2 separate regions of the Homo sapiens genome follow, and region 2 is linked to region 1. A link means that fine-mapping ties the variant in region 1 to the plasma level of a protein whose gene starts in the linked region. Region 1 holds a variant in brackets. A gene starts in the other region. All regions are shown on their reverse strands.

Region 1 (10,537 bases):
ACGCACCTGTAGTCCCAGCTACTCGGGAGGCTGAGGCAGGAGAATCTCTTGAACTCAAGAGGCGGAGGTTGCAGTGATCCGAGATCACGCCACTGCACTCCAGCCTGACCGACAGCGAGACTCTGTCTCAAAAAAAAAGTAGAAGAAATGGTGATAGAATTAGAAAATCTAGATTCAAGTAAGAATCATCAGTGGATGGGAAACCATTGGGTGGAAGATTGTTACGAAACTATATGTTAACAAGGTCTGTCCCACAGATGACTTACTAATTACCAAAGGGAACATTTATCTCTAAGGGAGAGATCTCGGGGCCTCAATCTTAACCAATTAGACAAAAGTAGCATCATAGTAATGGGACTATTTGACGTAATTTTCCTCCTGATATGATGCAATAAGAAGTACAAAACAGGCTAAGCCCAGCAGCTCACGCCTGGAATCCCAGCACTTTGGGAGGCCGAGGCGGGCGGATCACGAGGTCAGGAGATCGAGACCATCCTGGCTAACACGGTGAAACCCCGTCTCTACTAAAAATACAAAAAAAAAAAAAAATTAGCCAGGCATGGTGGCGGGCGCCTGTAGTCCCAGCTACTTGGGAGGCTGAGGCAGGAGAATGTCGTGAACCCAGGAGGCAGAGCTCGCAGTGAGCCGAGATCGCGCCACTGCACTCCAGCCTGGTGACAGAGCGAGACTCCGTCTCGAAAAAAAAAAAAAGAGAAGTACAAAACAGGCTGGGCCCAGCAGCTCACGCCTGGAATCCTAGCATTTTGGGATGCCGAGGCAGGCAGACTGCCTGAGCTCAGGGGTTCGGGACCAACCTGGGCAACACGGCAAAACTCCGTCTCTACAAAAATTACAAAAATTAGCCAGGTATGGTGGCGCATGCCTGTAGTCCCAGCTACTTCGGGGGGTGAGGCAGGAGGACTGCTTGAACCTAGGAGGTCAAGGGTGCAGTGAGCTGAGATCACGCCACTGCTCTCCAGCCTGGGTGACAAAGTGAGACCCTGTCTCAAAAAAAGAAAAAACAACAAGTACAAAACATCATCAATGTTTGCAGCATTCTTCTCAAAGGTGTGTTGTAACCCAGATCTAACAATGAAAACACAATCAGACCCATCCAGCATGAGTAGTATTCTACAAGACAACTAGCCTGGACTCTTCAGAAAGGGCAATCTAGTGAGAGGCAAAACAGACAGGGGTGGGGCTGTTTTAGGTTAAGGGACTAAAAAGACATAATAATCAAATGCAGCGAGGCGAGGTGGCTGACACCTGTAATCCCAGCACTTCGGGAGGCCAAGGCAGGTGGATCACTTGAGCCCAGAAGTTCAAGACCATCCTGGGCAACAGGGTGAAACTGGTCTCTACAAAAAATACAAAATTACTCAGGCATGGTGGTGCGCACCTGTAGTCCCAGCTACTTGAAAGGCTGAGGTGGGAGGATCACCTAAGCCCAGGAGGTCAAAGCTGCAGGGAGCCATGCTGTTGCACTCCAGCCTAAGAGACAGAATGAGACCCTGTCTAAAAAAAAACAAACAAAATCAATAGCAACGTGTGAACCTTGATTGAAGATTGAATGTTGGAAAAAAAAAAAAAGCCATGGAGCAATTGGGGAAATTTTAATATGGACTGTGTATTAGATGATATTATGGCATTCTTCATTTTTTTAGCTATGATAATGGCATTTCTCAGATGTGATTAAGTCCTGGTCTTTCAGAGACACCTGCTGAAGCTTTACAGTTGAAATGTCACGATGTCTACAACTTACTTTCAAATGATTCAGCAAAAACAAATGTGCATATATATGTATGTGCATGTACTAGAGAGAAAGAACATGAATGTGACTGGCAAAAACTGGTCAATATAGGTGAAGAGTTATTGGGTGTTTTTGTACTAATCTTTCCATTTAAAATTTTGAGTGATTAAACAAAAATGGGTGACAGCCAGGCACGGTGGCTCACACCTATAATCCCAGCACTTTGGGAGCCTGAAAATAAGTAAGTAAATAAATAAATGGGTGAGACAGAGTCACAAACGGAGCCCAATGGCACGCCACTAGAGACCTCCATCAAGGTTAGAACAGATCAATATGTTTTTTGTTTTTTTTTTGAGATGGTGTTTCACTCTTGTTGCCCAGGCTGGAGTGCAATGGCATGATATCAGCTCACTGCAACCTCTGCCTCGTGGGTTCAAGCGATTCTCCTGCCTCAGCCTCCCGAGTAGCTGGGATTACAAACATGCGCCACCACGCCCGGCTAATTTTGTATTTTTAGTAGAGACGAGGTTTCACCATGTTGGTCACGGCTGGTCTCGAACTTTTGACCTCAGGTGAGCCACCTGCCTTGGCCTCCCAAAGTACTGGGATTACAGGTGTGAGCCACCACGCCTGGCCTGATCAATATCTTTTATAGGCTGAACAACTAGCTATGTGTCCTCCTAACTGCACTGTTCAGCCCACATTTCTCCATATTATCCATAAGACTATTATGGGCTGAAAGCAGTGGCTCATTGCCCGTAATCTGAGCACTTTAGGAGGCTGAGGTGGGCGCATCACCTGAGGTCAGGAGTTCGAAACCAGCCTGGCCAACATGATGAAACGCTGTCTCTACTAAAAATATGAAAATTAGCCGGGCGTGGTGGTGCACACCTATAATCCCAGCTACTCAGGAGGCTGAGGCAGGAGAATCGCTTGAACCCGGGAGACAGAGGTTGTAGTGAGCCAAGATGGCGCCACTGTGCTCCAGCCTGGGCACAAGAGTGAAACTCCGTCCCCCCGACCAACCCAAAAAAAAAAAAAGAATATTATGAAAAAGATTGCAAGAAATCTTGTCAAAGTCAAGGTACTAGCTACATTTCCTTCTTCTACCTTCTGCCTACTGCACTCACCTAGAACAGTACCTGATGTTGGCCACATGCTCAATCACTATTTGTTGAGTCCCTGAATCTCCACATCAAGCAGATCCTAAAATGGCAGTGGGGCTGCTTTGCCCTGGTGTCTTGGCAACACATGAGTTGTGTGACTGCTGTGCTCATCTCAGAGCAGAGGAGACAGGGGCTGATGCGGCCTCACTAAGCGGATAATCATATCCTGCTCAAATGCTTCCAATATGTCTTATGTCGACTGGGCAGCAAGTCCTTTGAGGACAGTGACAGGACTTCCATCTTCCAAATCCCCACTGCCTTGCATGGCACTCTAGTAGGAACTCCACAGGGCTGACAAAATGAGGGTCCCAGCTGTCAGCCTGGAGAAGAGCCCTCGAATCCACGCCCCCAGCACAGCAGCTTTGGTCTTTGCGGGCTCCCCTTTCTTCCGTTAGTGTGCTGATGTGTTCTCCCCAGACTAGAAACCACACGAGGACACTGACAGAGAAAAATCTCCTGTGAGCAGACTTCCTGCGAGCGGGAGCGGTTCCCAAGCCAACGATGTGTCTCCTGTTCCCCTTTGCCACTCTTGGATGTTGGCGAGTCTTTCTCAGCCAGAATGCCAGTGTTTATAAAGAGCTCAGGAGGCAGCTTGGAAAGGGAGTACCAAAATAAGAGACGAAGAGAAAAGCACTGCTTCCTCCGTGCCTTGGCCAGCAAAATGAAGTCATCATCAAAGCTGGCCTCTTCTCCATCCACACTCACACGCTCTGGCACCTCCTCCCCATGGACCTTCCTCATTTTTCTCTCTCTCATACACACACACATACATACACAAGGACAGAAGCACAAGAATGTGTATAGGAATCCATTATAAAGAGGCCGAAACGAGGCCAGGCGCAGTGGCTCATGCCTGTAACCCCAGCACTTTGGGAGGCCAAGGCGGGAGGATCACAAGGTCAGGAGTTTGAGACCAGCCTGGCCAATATGGCAAAACCCCATCTCTACTAAAAGTACAAAAATTAGCCAGGCATGGTGGCGTGAGGCTGTAATCCCTGCTACTCGGGAGGCTGAGGCAGGAGAATTGCTTGAACCCAGGAGGCGGAGGCTGCAGTGAGCCAAGATCGTGCCACTGCACTCCAGCCTGGGTGACAAGAGCAAGATTCCATCTCAAAAAAAAAAAAAAAAAAAAAGCTACAAGGGAAAGAAAATAAAGGGAAGCATGGCTAAAAGTAAAAAGCAAATGAACACACATCCCTGCTGCTTCTCTACCCTGCCCAGTACAAAGGGAACAGATGCAGGGCAAGTGCCAGCAGTGTCCAGGCTACATCTGGCCTCCCAAGTGATCAATACCCATTAATCATCCATGGGTACAGCCTCTGCCCAGCTGCATGCAGGCCATGTCCTTGGGCATGGATGGTCCCTGCCAGGCGGCTCCTGGCCAGGTCTGCCTGCTCTAATTCCCACCCAGGGGAACCTGGCTCTGGAGCTCCCACAGTTCTACTCTGGGAGTTGTTGCTTTGTTTGCTGGCTGTGGGGGAGGGGCCTCCTGCCAAGCCCAGTGGAGCTTGAACCCAAAGGTCCCACCCGCCCCCTCCTGGGGTAGCACTCAAGCTCCTCCCCATTCTCGGGTGCTGACTGGCAGGCTGCCCAGCAAGGCCTCGCAGACATACACTGGCTGCAGCCCAGCTCTCCAGGCCTTGGCCCCCCACCACCATCCCCTTGTAGCCCTGAGCTCTCCTCTTATGCCAACCTGCAGCTGCAGCTCTCCACCCTGCCCTGGCTGGGCATGCTGCTGGTGTCTTCTCCCCAGGGGCTGGGCAGCAGCTCAGCTGCAGCATCAGTACATGTTGAAGAGGAAGCGACACCAGCTGGCACACCCTGTGTATTCTTTCAAATCAGCCAATGGCTGCCAAGTCCTCAGGGCTGGGAGCTTCCTTGGGGCAGCGCCTTCTGCAGCAGAGGGCATCCACCCCGGGTCAGCACTTACACTGCCTTCAAAACTCACTGGCAGCTTTTACCCAGGGTCTGGCAACAGATGTAAATAAATGGCTTCATCTCCGTTCCCCAAACCATTTTCCCCGCTACCGGCCTCTTGTTTTTCTTGCTCCTGGAAGTGGTAGAATCCAGTGGTTGAGCACACAGGTTCTTCTGTCAGAAGAATTCACTACCTTCCATATTTTGTGGACTTTTAGCAAGCCACACAATCACTCTGAACCTCAGCTTCTTCATCTAGGACGGAGTGCTATGAACAGCACTTCATGGGTGGCTGGAGAGAGTACATATAAAGCCACGGGCAACACTGGCATGTAGTGAATGCTCAGTGAGCAAGGCCATGCCTGCTATGTTATTGGTTCACCTCCCCATGAAAGTTGCCCCATGGCGTCAACAACTCTGAAGTATCTTAGATGCCCATCTCTGAGGACCCCCTTCTGGGTACTCCCTCAAGTTCAGCCACCTCCTGCAAAGCTGGTGCTGAGGCTGCAACTCTCATGGGGAGAAAGAACCGGCCCGCCCAGCCCAAGTCCCAGGTGCGTCCGCTGTGGTGAGGAGCCTGACACCCAGCACCACCCCCACTGGGGCCT[G/A]TTGGGGCCTGAGCTGGCCACTCCCTGGGAGGGGATCCCTCCGCCCCACAGGGCTGTGGGGCAATCAGCAGGGCTCAACCTGTCCCTGCCCTGACAGGGTAGAACATGAAGTTGCCACTGTCACTCCTCTGCTCCCCCAATATGAGTTCAGGAGGCGCTGTCTGCCTCTGCTTTTGCACCCACTCGCCTGTCCAGGGGAGACCAGATGGGCAACATAGGAAGACCCGGTCTCTACAAAAAATAAATTAAAAATTAGCCAGGTGTGGTGGTGTGCTCCTGTGGTCCCAGCTACTTGGAAGGTTGAGGTGCAAGGATCACTTGAACCTGAGAGGTAGAGGCTGCAATGAGTCACGATGGTACCTCCAGCTTGGGTGACAGAGCAAGACACTGACACACACACATACACACACATGCACACAGAGCAAGACACTGACACAGACACAGAGCAAGACACACACAGACACACACAGACACACACCCTGGTTCCAAAGATCCCATGAAGTGAGGAATCTACCTCCCCATTTGCTATCGAGTTATTCCCTCTAAAATCCCAGTCTGAGCACCAGACCCCTGTGAGGGGAAAAAGGAACAGGCCAGGGCCCTCCCTCCACCTCAGGAAACCAACCTTCCTTCCCAAAGGCCCAAGGCTCTCCCCTCTGCCTCTTCCTTCCCAGGGAGGAGGAGCTCTCTGACCCTGGAGTTTCCCCATCACCTCAGGTCACCTGGTGGCTGCCACTCTTACTCCCAGACAGAGCCTTGCTCTTGGTTCTGATGCTGATCCCAGAGAGTGGGCAGGAACAGGTATGCCTAGGTGGGTAGCGGGGATGCACAGACGGGTTGCCACGGATCTCCTAAGGCTCTGTAGGCTGTACTCTCACCCTGCTTTGCCAGGGTGGAGGTTCTGAGGAATGCACCACCTGTGGCAGTGTGCCCACTTGCCACCCTAAAGCAGTGGTATTAGGAGACAACACTCACAGAAAGCTGATGTGAGGGTGGCACCAAAGATCCATGCCTGGATAGGAATCTCACACAGCAGCCACCCTGCAGCACCATTTATGCACTGTGAATGAGGGTCCGGCTGGTGGGCACCACACCAGGGACTCTGGAGCCCACAAGGTTCTGAGTGAGCCCCAGCTTGGCCCTAGCAGGAGAGTGGGCTCTAAGAGGACGCACCCACGGGGCCACATGTGCTTATCTCTAGCCGTCTCATCTTTTGGTTTCCACAAACCCCTTGAAAGACGGCTGACCCTGCTTGCTCCTCCCAGCCACCTCTTCTATGAATGCTGCCTGAGTTCTTTCACTATAGCCTGTGAGCAGTGCAGCAGAGCAGGGACCCCCTTCACCACACGGGTGGGCTTCAGGGAGCTGTGAACGCCAAGAATGAGATGCCATTTCAGGAGAGAGGGAATCAGAGCTTTCATTTAATTTCAAAAGCTCCTTGCTACCAGCCCCCACTCCCCGCCAAAAAAAGTAAAGAACCATTTCTCTAAGGTGCGTTAGTCTGCAGACACAAGGAACTTTCAAAATTAGCCTTTATCAGAAAAAAAGAAATTATACCTCAGTTTGGAATAGTTATATAACCTTGACATGAAATATTTGGCAAATTCTTTCCAGCTACATCAAAGTTGACATTTATATAGCTAATTAATATTTATTGAGCACCTACTATAAGTGAGGATTGTGCCAAATTTTTACATTCAATCATTTACTTAATTCTCACTACAGGGTGAGATATCAGTTATTATTGCCATTTCAGAAGTGAGAAATTGGGGCATAGAGAGGTTCCAGGACTTACTAAGGTCACACAAGTGACAAGTCAGGACTAGGACCACAACTCAGATCTGCTGACTCCAGAACCCATATGGATATTCAACCTATAGTCAGAAATCAACCACGTTTTGTCTCAAGTTATAGCCATCCACCTCTTCTGATAATATAAGCCAATGTTTATCCTTCCTTCTTTCCTTCCCTCCCTCCTTCCTACCTTTTCTTCCTTCCTTCACTTCTCTCCTCTCCCTTCCTTCCCTTTTCTTCCTGCCCTCGCTCACTTCCTCCTTTTCCTTCCTCCCCCCCACTTCCTTCTTTCATTCATGCAACACATATTTCTTGTGCACTTGCTGCCTTCTAAGTATTGCTCAAGTTTAAGGAAACTGACGTGGTTGCTGCCTTCACAGAGCTTAGTTTATCAGGATCCTTTAAACTGTTCTTTCAGAGAATATTCATCCTGGCTGGGCGCGGTGGCTCATGCCTATAATCCCAGCACTTTGGGAGGCTGAGGCGGGCGGATCACGAGGTCAGGAGATCGTAGACCATCCTGGCTAACATGGTGAAACCCCGTCTCTACTAAAAATACAAAAAAATTAGCCGGGCGTGGTGGTGGGTGCCTGTAGTCCCAGCTACTCGGGAGGCTGAGGCAGAAGAATGGCATGAATCCGGGGGGCGGAGCTTGCAGTGAGCCGAGATAGCGCCACTGCACCCAGAGTGAGCGAGACTCTGTCTCAAAAAACAAACAAAAAAAGACAATACGTATCCTGATCTACATTTATTTTTATTTATTTATTTATTTTGAGACGGAGTCTTGTTCTGTCGTCCAGGCTGGAGTGCAGTGGTGCGATCTCGGCTCACTGCAGCCTCCGCCTCCCAGGTTCCAGCAACTCTCCTGCTTCAGCCTCCCGGGTAGCTGGGATTACAGGCATGCGCCACCATGCCTGGCTAATTTTTGTATTTTTAGTAGAGACAGGGTTTCACCATGTTGGCCAGCCTGGTCTTGAACCCCTGACCTCAGGTGATCCGCCCACCTCGGCCTCCCAAAATGCTAGGATTACAGGCATAAGCCACCTCGCCTGGCTACTTTTATTTTATTTTATTTTTGAGACAGTGTCTCACTGTGCCACCCAAGCTGGAATGCAGTGGCAGGATGATTGATGGCTCACTGAAGCCTCAACCTCCCTTGGCTCAGGTGATCCTTCTACCTCAGCGCCCTGGATAGCTGACACTACAGGCATGGGCCACCATGCTCGGCTAATTTTTGTATTTTTTGTAGAGACTGAGTTTCACCATGTTGCCCAGGCTGGTCTCGAACTCCTGGACTCAAGCGATCCACCCACCTTGGCCTCCCAAAGTGCTGGGATTACAGGCATGAGCCACCATGCCTGACCCACGTTTCTTTTCTTTCTTTTTTTTTTTTTTTGAGATGGAGTCTCATTCTGTCACCCAGGCTGGAGTGCAATGGCATGATCTCAGCTCACTGCAACCTCCGCCTCCTGGGTTCAAGCGATTCTCTTGCCTCAGCCTCCTGAGTAGCTGGGATTACAGGCATGCACCACCATGCCCGGCTAATTTTTGTATTTTTAGTAGAGACAAGATTTCACCATATTGGTCAGGCTGGTCTCAATCTCCTGACCTCGTGATCTGCCTGCCTCGGCCTCCCAAAATGCTGGGATTACAGGCGTGGGTCACTGCACCCAGCCCCCACCTTTCTTTAGACACTTTCACTCCCTTATGCTTTGTTTCCAACAAAGGTAGTGGCCACGGCCAACTTGGCAGAGTTCTAGAAGTGCTCCCAGGCTAGAATCCTGCTGTTTTCAACTAATTTCCAGAGTTGCTCCTGCGAGTTCCCTCTGCACTCTGCTCAGATTCTTATTAGGACCTCATTATGCTGCAGTGAAATACTCACTTACACATCACATCCCTCTCTTCCCTTCTCTTCTACAAGCTCCTTGAATGCAGGGACAAGGCCTGCCTAACTCAGCTTTTTCATCTCCAGCCCCAGGACAGAACATGGAAACAGCAGGTACCCAGCAAATGTCTTCTGCTCTAGCTGTCTCAAATCATTTCCAAAGGATTCATTCACGTTTTCCTTCCTGGATCTTTTCCCCCACTTTTCTGTTATCCCTTTCAAAGGAAACAGCACCACACGGATAGAGGCAGGACTAGAGTCCCATTTCCCTGCTTTAGGGAAGCTAAACAGTTTTCTTGCTTAGCTCCAGGCTCACCAGCTTTGCTGGCTTCAGAAGAGATGGTATTTTGGAGAGTGGCTGAATGCTTGGCTCCCAGGGACTTACTTTGGACCATCCTGTCCAATGTAGTCAGATACTACATTAAAGCAAGAGCCTCAAGGCACAAGACCCATGCAGCGGGGAGACTCAGCTCTCCCCAAGGCACAAGTCTCCGTTTCCCATCTTTAGTTCAACTGTTGCCAATGTCCCCAATCTTTATTTATTTTATTTTTATTTTTTTGTTTTTTATTATTATTATTTTTTGAGACGGAGTCTTGCTCTGTCGCCCAGGCTGGAGTGCAGTGGTGCAATCTCGGCTCACTGCAAGCTCCGCCTCGCGGGTTCACACCATTCTTCTGTCTCAGCCTCGCGAGTAGCTGGGACTACAGGCGCCCACCACCACGTCTGGCTAATTTTTTGTATTTTTAGTAGAGACGGGGTTTCACTGTGTTAGCCAGGATGGTCTTGATCTCCTGACCTCTCCGCCCATCTCGGCCTCCCAAAGTGCTGGGATTACAGGCGTGAGCCACCGTGCCTGGCCTTTATTTTTATTATTTTATTTTTTGTTTGCTTTTTGAGATGGAGTTTCACTCTTGTTGTCCAGGCTGGAATGCAATCACAATCTCGGCTGGCTCAGGGAACCTCCGCCTCCCAGATTCAAGCGATTCTCCTGCCTCAGCCTCCCAAGTCGCTGCGATTACAGGCATGCGCCACCATGCCCAGCTAATTTTGTGTTTTTACTAGAGACGAGGTTTCACCACATTGACCAGGCTGGTTTCAAACTCCTGAGCTCAGGTGATCCGCCTGCCTCGACCTCCCAAAGTGCTGGGATTACAGGCGTGAGCCACCATGCCTGGCCAATGTCCCCATATGGAGATTACCTGTCACCAACAGTTTGAGCCCCAGGTGCAAGGAGACATATCCTAGATTTTCCTGAGCTTCAGAAGGTATAATCTCCAAAAAGGCCAGGCGTGGTGGCTCAAGCCTATAAACCAGGCACATTGGGAGGCCAAAGTGGGCGGATCACTTGAGCTCAGGAGTTGGAGACCAGCCTAGCCAACATGGTGAAACCCTGTCTCTACTAAAAATACAAAAATT
Region 2 (10,537 bases), not on the chromosome of region 1:
TATCTCATCAAATAGAGCACAAGGCTCAGGAGGCTGAGCCATGGAGTTGCTGCTCTTAGCTTAGCCCCATTGCAACTTTTAGCTTCCCCCAGAGCAAAGCACTGTTCCTAAGGCTGCAGGCCACAGCCCCAGAAAACAGGTGGTTCCTTTTGGCACCAAACCAGGTGAGTTAGACAGTGCGACTCATCAAAGGGCCATCCCCAAGACTTGAAAATACCGAGGGTGCACGTTTTTTAAATGAAAATATTATCTTTGGAATTATAAAATAAATATTACATTATAGAGACTGTAGATTAGAGGAGCTGCCACCTTCTCACTATTGTCATTTTCAGAACTTTTTTTTTTTTTTTTTGAGACGGAGTCTTGCTCTGTCGCCCAGGCCGGAGTGCAGTGGCGCGATCTCAGCTCACTGAAAGCTCCACCTCCCGGGTTCATGCCATTCTCCTGCCTCAGTCTCCTGAGTAGCTGGGTCTACAGGCGCCTGCCACCACGCCCAGCTAGTTTTTTGTATTTTTAGTAGATGGAGTTTCACCATGTTAGCCAGGATGGTCTCAATCTCCTGACCTCGTGATCTGCCTGCCTTGGCCTCCCAAAGTGCTGGGATTACAGGCATGAGCCACTGCGCCCAGCCCAGAACACTTTTCTTTGTATTTTTTTTATTTTTATTTCTTGGAGACGGAGTCCTGTTCTGTTGCCCAGGCTGGAGTGCTGTGGTGAGATCTTGGCTTACTGCAATCTCCACCTCCCTGGTTCCAGCGATTCTCCTGTCTTAGCCTCCCAAGTAGCTGGGATTACAGATGTGCATCACCACGCCCAGCTACTTTTTGTATTTTTAGTAGAGATGGGTTTTCACCATGTTGGCCAGGCGGGTCTTGAACTCCTGACCTCAGGTGATCTGCCTGCCTCGGCCTCCCAAAGTGCTGGGATTACAGGCGTAAGCCACCGCGCCCAGCCACAGAACATTGTTAACATTCATTTTTCAGGCTTTTCCTAACCATCCTATCTAAATTACGCCCTTCGTGGCCCTATTTTTTTTTTTAACAACAAACATCTGGCCTTATTTATTAGGCACTGTTCTAAAACCTCTGCAAGGATTAACTTATTCAATCCTCACCATAGCCCTCTAAGGTACTCTTACTTGTTCTATTTTAGATCTACGGGGGAAATTGAGGCACAGAGGGGTCAGGGAACTTGCCCAGGATTGTACAGCTGGTGGGTGGCAGAGCTGGGATTCAAACCCAGGCAGCTTGGCTTTAGAATCAACAGTCTGAGCCTCATGTCCTGCTGCCCAGATCTGGCTGTAGACGCTCTTTATTTATGTCTTTCTTTCTCTCCAGCTGCTGAGCTGCTCACCCTTTATCCACTTTGCTTATCACAGTGTCTGGCACACAGTGGCATTCAAGTGCTATTTGTCAGGTGAATGAAGGAATGAATGAGAAAGGGGGAATTTCCCATAACCCAACTACCTTAGCACAATAATTATGGTAATTTTGACAGATTGTAGATTTCAAATCATGGGTCAGGAACCGCTCCTGCCAGTCCTGTTGTCCTGTCATCATCTTTGAGGCCAGAACAGCCCAGCTGTGCCAACATACCTGGGGCGAGAGGCAGCCCATGTTCCTCACGCCAGCGGTCAGCTGCGGGTTGGCCTCGGGCCTGTCTCTCTCTTGATCTCGCCCTTACTCACTCCCTCGCTGTCTCTCTGAACCTCCTTATCGCTGTCTGCCTGTCTTGCCCACATCTCCTTGTTCTCATTGTGCCTCTAGACCCTCTTTAAAGCCAGTGGAGTTTGAGGACATGCAATAGTAATTTTATAATCATTACTGGGCAGTGTAAAACAAACATTAGCACAGCTGGCAAAGAGTGTAGGCAGATGGTTCCTTTGGGATCCTAAAAAAGCAGGATACAGCTGAGATCTCTGTGACACTGTGGATTCAGAAACTGCTGGAACTGTCCAGTCCCTGTGGTGGCTGCCCCTTGTAGGGGTGGTGCCAAGGGTGGCTTGGGGGTTTAGGTCCTCCTAAATTTCCATTAGGCCCCAACAAATACACAATATAGCTAAAAAAAAAAAAAACCCAGTGTATTTGTTATGAAAATGCAACTTTGAGATGAGTCTCTAGACCCCACGTCCCCCCTTTGGATAAACTCTGGTGCTTCACAGCTGCCGGAGACCCATTTGCTGTCCTCTGCTTTGCTAACCATCTTCACTGAGTCTTTAATATCAAGTGGGGCTGGAAGACTGACCAGTGCCCTGATTCATTTACATATTGATTCATTGCAGGTCTCAGGCACAGGTTGATAATTATCTAACTGTTTAGATTCTAACACACATTGGATGGCAATACAAAGGGCCCATGAGGCAGGGTCCCCTTCTCAAAGAACTTCAGAGGAAAAGTTAAATGGCAGTGCAGGGGTTAACTGATACCATGTTGGCAGCAACAGATGTTGGCAGTCAGAGATGACTGTGCTGTGTCAAAGGCACACAGGACAAATATGCACAACCAAGCTCCTAGGCAGGAGAGATCCTGTGGGCTGAAGAGAGGTCAGGCTTTGTGGAAGAGTGAATTTGCCCTGGGGCCGGAGGATGAGTAGGAGCTGGACAGCTGAGCAGGGAGGGTGGGGGAGGGTGTTCCAGGCTGAGGACCAGCATGGGGTGTGGCTGGCAGAACTAGAAGTGCAGCATGGGACTATGTGATGAGTGGGCCTAGTTGGGAGGTCTGACGGATATGCTCAGCCCAGGCATTGAGTGTGATGCTGATGTCAGGGCTGCCCACAAACTTAAACAAAAGCCTGGGAACACAAACGTGGTATACACCATACTAACCAATGTGGGAAAGAAATCACACATGGAGCCGCTTCTAAGACACATTCAATAAGAGCAGACATGGGTGACCATCCTGCGCTTCTATCCTGTGGGCCAGGGCAGCACTCCCAGGAGAACCAGCATCTTCATGTGCCAGGGTCCCCTTGGGAGGTGAGTCTGGGCCTCTCCTGTGATGGGCCAGCTGCAGGGTCCTTCCACACGCAGGTCCTCTGCTGAAATGACGTGGCCTTGGTTTTGCAGGAGAACGAGGATGGTAGAATAGGCTGGCCTGGGCAGGTGTCCCTTTTAGTAGTCCTCTGGGTCAGTCTCTCTCAAGGCCTGTTGATCCTGACAGACCCCAGACACCTGTGGTAGCCCAGAGATGAATGAGGCCTACTTCAAACAATGCCCTAATGCTGAGGCTTATCTGGCTTCTGTCCCACCAGAAACCAATCAGTTCCAGGAAGAGTTTTCCAGCCTAGCCTGAACCCTGCCAGTCCAATAACAGCATAGCCCCTGATGTGTAGTGAGCACTCGATAAATATTTGGCTGATGGAATTCCCACCCTCTATGTCTCTCACAGCTGAGTGCCTCCCAAATCCTTGCCCAAGCAGCCTCACCCTCTTCCCCACTCTCCAGACCTCCACAGAGGACACAACTGCACCATCTCTGTCGCTATTCTCATCATTGAGACACCATCCACCATGCATCTCCCTCCACTCTCTCCCTACCCCAGCTCTCCAGGACCCAGCCTACCACAATTCCCAACTTGCTGGCTGGTCCCACTGTGGCTTCTTGGGAAGTCTGCAAGGATGGAAAGCCCATGTGAGTACCTAATGGCGGGGGGTACTCAGAAAGAGGAGCCGCAGAGTTCTTGGTCCACAACAGGCTAGCAGGGAAGAGAAAGCTGCCTGAAATCTATCTTAATGTATCTCTCTCTCTCTCTCTCTCTCTCTCTCTCTCTTTTTGTGTGTGTGTGTGTGTGTGTGTGTGTGTGTGTATACACACATACATGGACATCTAAGTTTATGAGGCATCTTTGCATGAATATGTATTGATATATTTTCATTTATTGGCTTAATGGATTTTTTCTGCCTTTGTCAGCATGTCTTCGGTTATAAAATCTGGGGTTTGGGAATCCGATCTGCGAAGAGGGCGTATGAGCAGCCGTGGGAGGGCATATCCCAATTCCCCACCCCTCAACCCTCAGCACCAGAGGCAATGAAGGAGAGGCAGGACAAGCACTTAGGGTTGTTTAGGGAGTTGTGACATCCTATGAGAAGTGGAACTAGATGGCAGTTGAGGTCCCTTTAATTCCAGTGAATTTAAATCTAGACTGCTTTGTATAGTAACCAGACATGATTAAGTGGTCGTTCAAAGTGTGATGTTGTGGGGCAATGGAGCAACGGTGCTTATGAGAATGACCCCTGGTCAGATGGATCTGGGTTGAGGCACAGCTGCATAACTTAATGATTGTGTGCTTCTGGGCACGTCTCCTAACCTTTCTGTGCCTCAGTTTCTTCATCTGTAAAATGAGGACAGCAATAGTACCTATTAAGGTTGTAGTGAGAATCAATGAGATAACACATATGATAACACACGTGGTAAGTGCTCAGTCAATGTTGCTGGTGGTTGTTAAGGCTGTTATTCTTATTGAAGGATGCAGTTTTAAACACTTGGGTACTCAGATGAACCATCTGGCTCTATGGAGTCATCCTTAACTGTCTTCCCCAGCTCCAATCCTTGCTCCTGACCTAAAATTCCATTAATGGGGGGAGAGCTCCTGCCCTCAAAACACCATCCCATGGCCAGTTCAGCTGGACACTAGGAGAACCTAGCCAGGCTGTACTCCACTCTGACAGCTTTGGCTTCAGCTAGGGTCCACCCAGCTGGACACTTGGAAGGGACAGACCATTCATTCCCAAATTCTGAGGCATCATTGCTTCCCAGGCCAGCCAGTGACACCCTCCTTTGTCCCCTAAACAACAGGAGTCAGAGACACGTTTATGTGGTGCCAACCCAGGGAGGATGAGGATTCTGAGGGGCAGTGACTCTTCAGCCTGCTTTTGGATTGTGTAAATGAAATCTATGCAAATGAAGCAGCCATTTCTGCTCTTACTCATTCTAACCAGCTCCCTTCTGGGAGAGAAGGGCTAGGCTCACTCTTTAGTTGTGCTTCCGGGCTGGATGCAGTGGCTCACACCTGTAATCCCAGCACTTTGGGAGGCCAAGGTGGGCAGATCACCTGAGGTCAAGAGTTTGAGATCAGGTTGGCCAACATGGTCTCTACTAAAAATACAAAAATTAGCCAGGTGTGGTGGTGCATGCCTATAATCCCAGCTACTCGGGAGGCTGAGGCATGAGAATTGCTTGAGCTGGGGAGATGGAGGTTGCAGTGAGCCGAGATCACACTGCTGCACTCCAGCCTGGGCGACAGAGAGAGAGATTCCATCTCAAAATATATACATACATTGCACTTCCTGTGTGAGCCCCTTGCAAAGTTTGCTTGCCCTAGGCTTGTCCTTCTCTCTACCCCTGAGTCCCTATGTTTGGACTCCTCTCTACACAGCAACAGGCTGGGGGATTCTCTTTAACCCACCAGCAACTGTTCAACCTGGCGCATGGGCAGGAAAACTCGAGATTAAAGTCTGAGAACCTGGAAGGGATTGTCAGATCCAACCCCATCATTTCAGATGAGAAAGCTGAAGACCAGCGAGAGGAAGAAACTTCTCCTGTTAAAGCACACTGGATGAAGACGTGCTCCACTCCCAACCTCCAGAAAAAAATCACTGATAGAGTGGCCTCCACTGTTCACCAATTTTGCCTTTTTATATGATAGTTTTCTTTCCTGAGAGGGTTGAGAATCCCCATGCAGTGCTCTTTCTGGCAAGGGCATCATACTTGGCAGATTTTACCTTTATTATCGGGGAAAACTGGACAGTCACGGGGAGCTGCTCCCCTTCTTTTGGACTTGGAAACAAAAGAACCTCACTGGGGAGGAGTTCCTGAGGAGAGGAGTGTAAGTTGGGGTGAAGGGAGTGAAACCCTGGGCTCCCAGGGGAAGAAGAGTGGGCCTTCGGCTGCCTTTAAGAGGCCTCTTGCCCCTCCCCTGCCTCATAAGGAATCTGAAACGTTTAAACCCCAGAGGCTGACTCAGTAAGAGTCATTTGCATAATATTTTAGAGTGATTTAGCCATGCGCTCGACATGTGGCTGATTTAGCTATGCTGGGCTTGGTGGTCATAAGAATAGCACTGGTTCTGACCGACACATCCTCTATCTCTCTGTCCAATGACCCCAACCCTTGCTTGGGCACTTACTGTTTGTCAAATTTGGACCAATCACCTTACTGTGTGCCAGTGTCATGCTAAGCTCCAGGAATTTGAAGATGAATCCAACCTGTGGCCCCTTGGAAAGTCAGGTCTGAGACTTGGAAGTAGGTGTCTGTTTGGTGGGGATCACCCAAAGATCAGCCCATGGGTGTCCCTAATTTGGACAAAGAACCCTCCAAACTGGACCCATCTTGGTGTGCCTGCCTGCATGACCTATTTTTTAAGCTGCAAACAGCTAGCATTACCTGTTCTCAACATCTGGCATTACCTACCTTCTTAGTCACCTTCCCTCAGGCTTCAAACAGCTGTAGGGCCCCACCTCCTATCCATCTAGGGTCCCTCCCTCCCCTTTTTCTTCCTGAAAGGATCTGGAGACACCAGCTCCACAAGTCCTGGTGTCTTTAAAAGGATCAGCTTGAGGAATAAGGCTCGTCTGAGAGCTGTGACATTCATCTGACTCTAGTGAAAGTCCAACAGCCACTCCCTTTTTGGCCTCCAACTGGGCACCATGAGGGCCTGCATCTCCCTGGTATTGGCCGTGCTGTGTGGCCTGGCCTGGGCTGGTAAGTCACTATCTGGCGGGCATGGGATTGCTGGTGGGGCGGGATCTTGCCTAAAGAAGCAGAGAGTTGGAGAACTTGGTAGAGGGCAGGGCCGTGGGACAAGGGAGGGTGAGCTCTGTCCTAAAGCCGCAGAGCACTTTTGGGTTGTCCTTGTCTGAGGGTGCAGGCGTTGGTCCCGGAATGGACTGGACTATGTGGAGAGAGTTGCAGGGCTGATGGTCTGATTTCATGGAATTCCCTTCTTGACACCTTGGAGGATCAGCCCCAAATATCCCTTAGTCCAGCCTGACTTTTGATCTCCCCAAGATTTTGTTGTCTGGGGCCACTGTAAGGAATAAAGCTAGGGCTGGTGTCCATGGGGTCTGAGTGGCCTGGCTGCCCTTGGTCACTCCTTCCACTGCCTGGTGACAGGTGAGGTTGTTTAGGGTGTGATGTTACTTTGGGTAGAGCCTTAGGAGGTGGGCAGGCTTAGGAGGAAACTGAAAGGACCTTTGACCAGGAGGTGGGCCTCGTCCTATCTGGGGCTGTACAGGGGTCAGAGGAATGGATCTCTGTTGCAGTGTTAGGAGAATTGAAGAATACAGAAGGGACCTGGCCCACAGTTATGAGAGGTCCAGGGGATGGGACTGGCAGAGGAACAGGACCATGTTCCTGTTTAGTAACTGTGCAAAATGCTGGTGCTGATGGGTTAATTGGTAGCTAGTGGGTGGGTGGGAAGGAGTGCCAAGGGAGGGGCTGAGCTGAGGAGTGTGGGGAGAATCCTCCTCTGCCCACAGGAGAAAGAATCCTTCCACTGGGTTGCTCCTGTGTAGGACTGTGGAAAGGATTAAATGAAATAATGTATGAGAAGCACCTGGTGCAAAGTGAGATCTCAGTGAACTGGAAATTCGCTATGATTATGACTATAAATTTTCTTGGGAGAAACTTCCGCTTGGGGTCATTTCCAACTGGGTTGTGGAAAGGAGACCCTTATGGGATTTCTAAGTGGAAAACCCCTGGAAGAGGAAGTTGTGCCTCCCAACCATGGATGAGATAGTGCATCTTACCAGAAACCAGCTCTGCCTGGGCCCTAGTGGGTGGAGAGGCAGTGGGAGAGCATGAGGGTGGGCCTGGGAGCCACCAGCCTCAGCCCTGTTGGTTGGGAGGAAGGTGGAACTTGGGGGCTTAATGTGTAGGGGTGGCCAGCGGGCTTGGCATATTCCAGCCTTAGGGAAGGAGAGCAACTCTGGATATTTGGTCCCTGGGGGGCAGAGGTAGCAGTGGCTTTAGAAGTGCAGGTGGAGCTCTTGCTGCTAGGTCGGAGGGCAGTATCTGCTTTGGCTGTGGGATCGATGGGGAAGTGAGGTCAAGTGTATGAGGCTTCCTAAGGTGGCAGGGAAGAGGCTCTGCACTTGTTGATACTATCCCAACATCTCAGAACTGAGAGGCAAGAATATGAATCACATGGGGAATCACTGACAGCCTCAGGTCCTCCTTTATGAGCTGGATGTCTGTGGAGAACCTTGGTTGATTTTTTTGGTTGTGAATGGAGGCAGGAAGCTAGTCCAAGGGGTGAGGCTTCTTGGTTGACTAGGTCTCCATGGAAACAGCATCTGGGGCCTTCTAACGGTACAGATGTGTAGGATGTCCCAGTCATCAGAGGGGCTGAGCACCAGTGTACAGGGACACTGTGTCCACCCAGGCTTGGGACCAAGCTTCCTTGATGGCCAGTATGGATAGGGAGTGGCTGTTCTGGCATATTGAAGTCTTAGAAAGTGCAGAGAAATTGAGCATTTCTTGGGGGAATGGAGGGAGAATCTGAACCCGAGAGAGGAAAGGCTCAGATGAAGAAAGGCAGAGAGTCAGAGAGGTGAGGCAGAGGAACAAGAGGCACAGGTTACTACAGCAGTGATTCAGGCACCTGGCTTGGGGAGCAAGGCTTACTCAGAGTGTTGGTGTTAATGGTGCAGTGTGGGGATGCTGGAGTGAGTTGTTAGGGTGACTAGTTACTCATCAGAGTGTCCCCAGAATGTCACAGCAAAGTGCCTATGAGGAAAAGTTCCTCCCACCCCTGCACTCCACTGTCAAATCCCAAGGTCACCTTGAAGCAGACTAAGTGCACAGAGAAATGTGAGAAAGTGCTGGCATGGGGCTCTTGCTGGAGACAAAGTTCTTGAGCAGAGATGAAAAAGCCCACTCAGCTTGGGCCGGCGGGGGTGCTCTCCTGCACGTCCAGCTGACTGCTCGCTTGCAACCCTTCTCAACTGGTGCCAGCTGCTGGAATGAAGTGAATTCTTTCCCTGGACTCTGCTGATTTGGCCCATTAAAAACATTGCCCTGATTTGCCTGAATTCTCTCCCTTTGGATTCTGGGTGTACTGCCAGGCTGACTGAGCAGGGAGCTGATGGGCTGAAAATTTCTCCTTAAGGTCTTTGCATTCAGGCTCCAAGGGAGCATCATTTAACATTCAAGAGGAGTTCCTGCCGGCTTGAAGGAACAAGTGGCCTTGGGCCTGGTCTCTTTTAGGGACTGGAAACCTGCCTTCCTGCCCACCTTGGAGGCCTGACAATGTGAAGTTGTCTGAGGACCCGGGTTAACCTTGACCCAATGCCTCTCTGATGTAAAGAATACAGACCTGTAGTGATGAAGTCAGCCAGGAAACCAGCAACACAGATGTGCTGACAACCCAGCCCAAGGGATGGCCCTGTTGAAACCCTGGGAGAGTGTCAGCTAGATTAAGTGTGTCGACGGGGCCACAACACAGGGAAGACTGCTCCAGCCAGTCTGAACACTTGTCACTTGGAAGATGGGCATGAAATATTGCCACCGTTTATTCACCTAACAAATACTTCTATGGTACTACTATGTGTCACTTGCTGTCCTAAGTGCTTTACATATATTAACTCATTTAATTCTTACAAATATTCTATGAGATAGGCTCCATTATCATCCCACTTTTACAGATACGAAAACCAACGCACAGAAGTTCAAATAACTTGCCCAAGATCACATAGCTAGAAAGCAGTAGAACCAGAATTCCAGCCTCAAGCAGTTTGGCGCCAGAGTCTAGGTTCTTGACCTCTCTGCTATGCTGTCCCTCATTAGACAAAGTATCAACCTTAATCCCAGAATCCAATACTAGGGACTGGTAACCAAACCCAACCTCTAATATTTAAGCTCTAACCCACTCCAGGCTTAAATTAAGATACTACACCTGTATTGAATCATAACCAGAACCAAGCCCCCAAACAAAACAGGGATTATTCATCTTTTTCTCATCCTGACACATTCCTCAACCCCGAATGTCATCTTAAGTCTATTCCTATTCCTTACCCAAATATCAATACAAAATTGTTAATTTATCAACTAATTTAACTCAAGCCCAAATCCTAACTGTAGTTCTTAACCTAACTAACCCCAACCCTGGTCCAAATTAGGTTTCAGTTTCCTCACTGATACAAATTCTGATGCTGATGGTAACTCTGACTCTGATCTTGACATTCTCTGTAACCCACAGTATGACCTCTGAACCCAGCGTTCGTGAAATCCAAACCTCAGGAACCTCAAATCGAACAAAGACTCTGTTATCACCCTTAAAGCCCAGAGTGGATAGTGGGTTTCCACTGTTCCTTCAAAATGTCTTGTCTTATGTCCCTTGCGACCAAAAGCTTGCTTCTGCAAACCATTTGGCTGCAGTGGGGGATGTGGTCTGTGGTTACATAATAGAATGCTATGCCAGAGCCCAATTCTCACCCGCACCCGCCTCATTCCCCACCCTGAGCATAAATTCATCTGAATGTACTCCAAAGACGGGAAAGAACAGAAAGATGTGACACAGGGGGAAAGAGCGTGCAGAGAAGA

Direction of the effects. Positions count from the first base shown, and alleles are read on the strand shown. Strength reflects both the effect of a copy and how common the allele is.
In carriers of allele A in region 1, the plasma level of the protein whose gene starts at base 6,566 in region 2 tends to be lower than with G alone (moderate association).

The links. PIP is the posterior inclusion probability: the model's chance that the variant is causal. Protein levels are from antibody-based Olink assays in UK Biobank. Linkage for the fine-mapping came from a reference panel and not from the study's own genotypes, which makes the PIPs less certain.
Region 2: it holds the start of ENDOU, and the variant in region 1 is fine-mapped to the plasma level of the ENDOU protein (UK Biobank, PIP 0.94).

Annotation. Positions count from the first base shown.
Region 1 is chr15:90,186,099-90,196,635 of GRCh38, reverse strand. It overlaps a transcript of SEMA4B not described here. Among named protein-coding and RNA genes, the nearest start is that of SEMA4B, 10 kb to the left of the region's middle. RefSeq lists enhancers at 4,305-4,404, 4,705-5,004, 5,205-5,294. The variant G/A (reference allele first, on the strand shown) is at 5,442.
Region 2 is chr12:47,721,519-47,732,055 of GRCh38, reverse strand. It overlaps ENDOU (endonuclease, poly(U) specific), which reads left to right and starts at 6,566. Exons shown (of 10, transcript NM_001172439.2): 1 at 6,566-6,697. The coding sequence starts at 6,643. It overlaps RPAP3-DT (RPAP3 divergent transcript), which reads right to left. Exons shown (of 4, transcript NR_183480.1): 4 at 1-3,169. RefSeq lists silencers at 4,907-4,966, 5,932-6,051.